Linked DNA regions of Homo sapiens. The protein of the gene in region 1 interacts with the protein of each later gene in a biochemical or structural test. Each region holds a gene or a part of one and is shown on either strand. Other genes may lie near its edges.

Region 1 (3,022 bases):
CAACATATTCTGTTTTACTAAAAGGATTTCCCACCTTACAACTATGAACAAGAAAAAATTTGTACTTAAAATAATATTAAAATGCAAGATCTCATTATTTAGTACAAGATTAATAGACTATAATTCTAATCTTAAAAATATCTATAGATGCAACTTCTCCAACTTGTTAATTCCCAAAGAGATTAATAAAAGATGTAATTAACATCTAAACTTAGAGCAGACTATCATGTGGAACAAACTATTTTAACAAGAACTGCACCATAGTCAAATAGATCAACCACACACATCACCCTTTATGGTTCTGAATAAGGTTAATGAGCACAATTTGTCATAAATTTTCCCATAACTCTGAGAAACTGAATTGAATAAAAAGACTATTTTTTTCTTAACACCTTATAAAGATAGGATAAAGGCCGTAGTTATCGTCTTTGGAACGTTGCACCTAGCACTGTATCTGGCAATATAAATGTCATTAAGTATATTTGTCAAAAGAATAAACAAACAACAAGCAAATAAGCAACCCAATGCACTACAGCCATTCAGCTCCTTATTACGTGCTAAGTATTTAAAATTATACATAATAAAATGGAATATACTCAAACTTTTATTTCTACCTAATAATGAAAGAATTACTCACTTAAAAGTTACACAATTTAACAGAACGTAGAGGTGCACTTTCATAAACCAATAACTTAGCTAAAACCAATAATGATTTTCTGCAATTGTATAACATTTTTCATTTAAGCTGTTTTTCTTTTATGAAATTAGAAAATATACAGAAATCCAAATAAATTTCTTTGCAATAAATAACACAAAGACAGGTACACTACACTTGATCTTAACAGTAACACATTTCTCTCATGAAGAGGTTATTTTTAAAAATAGCTAGAAATTTGGAGACAAAGGCAAAAAAAGGAGTAAAATAACTATAAATGTTCACTAATGTTCTTCCACTTCAAAAACTGACATCAGAGACAGAAAAGACCTTCTGCGTCTATCAGTGACTTCCTCTTCATGTGTCATAGAAAGAGTTCAACATGCTTTACAAAATCCATTACATTTTAAGACCATTTCCAATATCTGCTATCATAAATCAAGAAATCCATTTATTCAAGGTTACTTATGGAGAATTAATCACACAGAAAATTTTAACAACTCCTTTTTCAAAAATTAAAGTACTTTACTATACTTGGCATTCCTACACATAATGATATGGATTCAAACACTGAAAGCATTAAGGGCATATAATTAAAATTCATGGGCTTAGACATTTAAAAAAAGGTTTACTATGTAGTACTCTCTGTAACTAATATTCCAGAAAAATAAACCACAATACAAACACAGTGTAATCTCCTTTGGACTTCTCATCTGCTTAAGTGGCATTAGGTAACTTAAGAAGTTGTTCCAAAACACTTGTATGTACTTGATACAGCCTCAAAAACATGAAATAAAAAAAATCTGAAAAAAAATGAGATGAAAAGAACTGTGGACACCATGCATCAGGAACAAAAACTCAAGAATTTCTCTATTTGTGATGACTTCTAAAACCTATCTTCCTAATTTGGAAGGCAAATTTACTCAAAAGATAAAAATACACAGGTCAGTTATACAACATTTTCAGCCTTTATTGAGAGTACAGTCATCATGCCAAAATTCATCCATCAACATACAACCTTATTTCCCATCTAAAGTTAATGAGAATGTATTTTATTTTAAATGGGACATAGAGGCAACATGCCAAGAATTAAAGTACAACCATAAAGTTTTAGTTTCACACTTTGAATATCAACAAAGCAGTAATTCCTAAAATCATGAAAACATGATAAAGTATCTATACAGAAAAAAATGAACATTTAAGTCATTTCACGCTTTCTTAATATCATATAGTGAAAACAGATGTACCTATAATTTCAGCCTACAGATAGCATACTTCATAAGGTCATTATTCATTTAAAATAGTACAAATGTTTACAAAGAACATTTCACTTAAATTTCACAGCTGCTTATAAAATGGTACTTGCAAGACTGACCTATATAAAGAAATAAGAGTCTCATCAAGAGATGGTAAATTATAAATATATAATATATCACAATGTTAAAATCCTCAGTGCTAATCAATAAAGATAATGATCTTTGGAGAGGAAAGTATTTAGCTTTACATATTTACTGTGAATTTACATATTAATAAGAAACACATTTAAACCTTGCCCTGCCACAGAATTATTTTGCGGGGGGGGGGGGGGGGGGGAAGATGTACTTTTTGAATATGTGTACATCAAAACCAAAAAGTTAACTTTTACTTTTTCCTTTATTGGCAACTTTTGATGCATTTTTCGATTTTGGTTCCCAGAGGGCATTTTTTACAAATCTTGAAGCTGCACCTCTGTCCAGCTTGCCAGCCTTTTTCTTGTCTGTTATTTCCTTGACTCTGTTCATATATACTCTGATTCTTTCCTTAAAGATAAAAAACAAAGGCAATAGATTTACTAAGCTATTCGCCACCACTGAATTTTATTATACTGTACACCTTGGTTAAATTCAACATATATGTATTTATTGCCTATTAAAGTGCATGGTGCTAGGAAATGCAAATGAATAGGATAAATACGCTCCCTGCTTGCCTGGAGTTCATAGTCGGAGGGTGGGGAAAGACAGATGTTAAAAAGTCATTTCAGAAGTCTTCTGTTTCCAAAGAGTTAGAATCACACTAAGACATTACTCCAGAAATAAACATCGAATTGAAAGTTTCTAGGTGGTTATACATTTTTGAAAAACACCATTAACATAAATCTACATATTAACTGTTTTGTATCTAAAGTAAAAAACCGGAGCTTTCATATACTTGCAAAATACAAACTAAATTCTCCTGAAATTTTTCTAAACAGGAAATACATGAGGTAGTACTTAACTATCTTTTCACATTACCATCTAGTGTAACAATTAGGGAGAATGAAAATACAAATTATTCAATTTTATAATTTTGGTAAGTACATGAAATTTTCTAATAAAATATACAGTTCTA
Region 2 (3,834 bases), on another chromosome or scaffold:
GACCTGATTCCTTTGCCTGTTTCACGAGAGGTAGAATAGTATCTACCCTACAACTCCCCAGCTTACGTGTTTTAGTCCAGCTTCTGAAGACGGATTGTTGTTACAAATTCCAGATGTCTCCAGAAGGGTAGCTGTGATTGGTTTTATACTATATGTCACAGAAAGAATGTAGGGAAGATCACATATAATTTATTAGCTTTTCGTTATTGAAGATATTATTGCCCGGGCATGGTGGCTCACACCTGTATGGGCAACATGGCAAAACCCCATCTCTACAAAAAATACAAAAAACTAGCTGGAGATGGTGGTATGCAAGTGTAGTCCCAGCTGCTCAGGAGACTGAGGCAGGAGGATTGATTGAGCCCAGGTGGTCAAGGCTGCAGTGAGCCATGATTGTGCCACTGTACCCCAGCCTGGGCGACAGAATGAGACCCTGTCTCAAAAAAAAAAAAAAAAAAGATACTGAAGTATTCCGTTCAGTAACATGAAACTTTTAAGATAATTCTCACATTTTAATTTTTACTTCATTAAATGGAATCTAATTTGCCATACATAGATTTATTGAAATATGGCACTGTTAACATTTTCTTTTTCTTACCTGACTGTGTAAAATTAGTTTTTGCTTGTTTTCTCATATCATTCTTAGATAGCTTGTACATAATAAGGCTTGTATTATCGAAAGAAGCAATACTGTTCTTATTAATTATGGACACTTTTTTTTAGTACTTATTACAATTCTAAAACAATTGCCATCAGTATTCAGCAGTAATATAAATAACAAAAGCAATAATATAAAGAAAAACATACAGATTGAGTATCCTAAATGCTTGGGACTGGAAGTGTTTTGGATTTCGGATTTTGGAATACTTGCAGATAATGTATGGGTTGAGCATCCCTTATCTGGAAATCTGAAATCTGAAGTGCTCTTGTGAGCATTTCCTTAGAGTGTCTTGTTGCTAAGAAAGTTTTGGATTTTGGAGCATTTTGGATTTCGGATTTTCAGATTAGGGATGCTCAACCTGTAATAGGAATATGACAGGAGACCTTAATATTTTAGAAAAATCTGCGTTACTGTGTGAAGTCATCTTTTAAATATTTTTCCACCAAAAAATAAATGCTCATTATAGTAAACTTAGAAAATGGTAGTCTTTAGAAAAATTACGAATGGCAGAAAGGTAAAGCTACTTAATGAGACAAATCAGTCTGTAGTACCCAAAGATAGCCTCTATCAACTAGCAGATTTCTTATTTTGTGCACTGTTTTTTATCATAGTTGTGATCATACTGTTCATACAGTTTTGACTAGTAAACTGAGAAAATAATAGACTTCAGAAAAATAAGAAACTTAAGAAAAAAATAGAAACTTTAGAAATATTAGAAACTTCAGGAAAGTAAAGATACTTCATGAAAGAGGCTGGATGTGGAGGCTCATGCCTGTAATCCCAGCACTTTGGGAGGCCAAGGCAGGCAGATCACTTGAGGTCAGGAGTTTGAGACCAGCCTGGCCAACATGGCGAAACCCTGTCTCTACTGAAAATATAAAAATTAGCCGGGCTTGGTGGCATCCCAGCTACTCGGGAGGCTGAGGCAGGAGAATTGCTTGAACTCAGGAAGCGGAGGTTGCTTGAACTCAGAATTGTGCCACTGCAATCCAGCCTGGGTGACAGAATAGGACTCTGTCTCAAAAAAAAAAAAAAAAAAAAAAAAACTTTATGAAAGAAATGAGCCAGTCACAGTACAGCTGAAAAACTGTTGTGAGAGGACCTCATGTATTTTAACTACAAAATTATTTTAATAGACATAGATAACTCTTCTTCAGTGAGCTTCAGTAGTTTGTGTCTTTCAAGGAATTTGCCATTTCCTCTAAGTTTTGAAATTTATTGGTGCTAATTTTCATTTTGATTTCACCTTTGACCCAAGAATAATTTAAGTATGTTATTTTGTGTCCAAATATTTTGGGAGTTTTCCAGACGACTTTCTGATACTGATTTCTAATTTAATTTCATGTGGTCAGAGAACATACTTTCTATAATTTGAATCCTTTTAAATTTATGGAGCCTTAATTTTGGCCCAGGATATGGTCTATCTGGTAAATGTTGTGTGTGCACTTGAAGAGTGTGTATTCTGTTATTGTTAGGTGTAATTAAGTCAGATTGGCTGATAGTGGTGTTCGCGTCACTTATTTCCTTATGATTTTCTGTACACTCGCTCTATCAGTTATTAAGAGAGAAAGAGGGTGACCTCTCTTGACGATAATTGTAGATTTGACTTTCTCCTTGAAGTCCTATCAGTTTTTTCTTCAAGTATCTTGAAGCTCTTTTATTTGGTACATTAATATTTAGGATTGTTATGCATTTAATGAATTGACCCTTTATCATTATGATGGTATCCCTGGATATAGGCTTTGCCCAAAGTTTGATGTTAATATAGCTACTCCTGTTTCGTTTGATTGTTATTAGAACGTATATCTTTTCATCCTTTTATTTTTAATCTATTTGTGTTTATATTTAACATGGATTTCTTGTCTCTCTTGCTTTTTAAAAATCCATTCTGAAAATCTCTGCTTGTTAGTGCAGGTGTTTAGACCGTTTACATTTAATGCAGTTATTGCTATGGTTATAATTAAATCTACCATCTATTCTTCTCTCCTTCCTGCCTTATTTTGGATAATTTTTTATGATCCCATTTTATCTTATTTGTAGGCTTATTAGCTATGCCTTTTTTGTTTTGTTTTTGTAGTGATTGTTTTATGGTTCATAATATATATCTTATTGTCAACTATTCTCACTTTGTACAATACTGTGTTTACTAAAATTTGTGCATACAAGAATCTTTTCACTTTGCATGATTTTTTGGTAACAGTTACTTTGCCAGTGAAGGTCACAGTTTTGATGTGCCCAAGTTTCAGTTAACACAGTACCATGCAAAGTAAGGACTACTTATCATTTCGCGTATGGTATAAAAATCTTATACTTCCTTTTCCATTTCCCCTCTACTAGCTTGGCCTTTTGTGCTACTGTTGTGATTCATGTTATTTCTACTTTTGTTGTTTCCACAATATGTTATGATTTTTACTTTAAACAGTATGATTTAAAAATAAGAAAAATATTTATCCACATTTACCAATTTTTGTAAATGTTCATTCCTTTGTGTATAGATTCAGATTTTTATCTGGTATCATTTTCCTTTTGCCTAAAGAACTTCTTTTAATATTTTTTGTAGTGTCAATCTGCTGATGATAAATCAATTCTTTCCGGCTCTGTGAACTAAGGGGATTGTTCTGCCTGCTCACTTTGGGCAATTCTTTTTCCAGCCTTAGGTAGTTTCCTCACATGCCTGCACTGATCAGTACTCAACTGAAGACTTGAGGAGGTTGCTTCTATAAATCTCTGAAGCTCTCTGTTTATACAGCTTTCTCCTCATTGTTACTCTGCTCTGCAAATTTTAGCTGTCTCGATCCCCCAAAACTCCCAACTCCTTTTCTACTCAGGCTGACTCCCAGGCTCCACCTAAGTTTCCTGTCTCTGTACTGTCACTTGGAAGCTTTCCAGGCAATAAGATGGGGCAGTCAGAGGGTATATGTTGTTCTCCTCCCTTTCCCCAGGGATCACTGCTCCATGCTGCCTGTAGTCCAGTGTCTGTAACCATTGTTTTCTGTATTTATTTTTTCTTTTTAGTTGTTTAAGGAGGGAGGATAAATCCAGTCCACGTTACTCTGCCCTTACTGAAAGCAGACATTTATCCATATATCATATTTTTATGAACAAAATTTTTCTTATAGTAAACATACAATTTTTGTATACTTTTTTCACTTAACAGTGTGTTAATAACATTT

Evidence for each region.
Region 2: the proteins of C1D (region 1) and TSNAX form a complex in vitro, tested with the Homo sapiens proteins (one study listed by BioGRID).

The regions. Positions count from the first base shown.
Region 1 is NC_000002.12:68,040,600-68,043,621, forward strand, and holds the end of C1D (nuclear nucleic acid-binding protein C1D), read right to left. Parts: intron 2,455-3,022; coding exon 2,290-2,454; 3' UTR 531-2,289; downstream 1-530. UniProt on the Homo sapiens protein: Plays a role in the recruitment of the RNA exosome complex to pre-rRNA to mediate the 3'-5' end processing of the 5.8S rRNA; this function may include MPHOSPH6.
Region 2 is NC_000001.11:231,538,492-231,542,325, forward strand, and holds part of TSNAX (translin-associated protein X), read left to right. Parts: intron 1-3,834.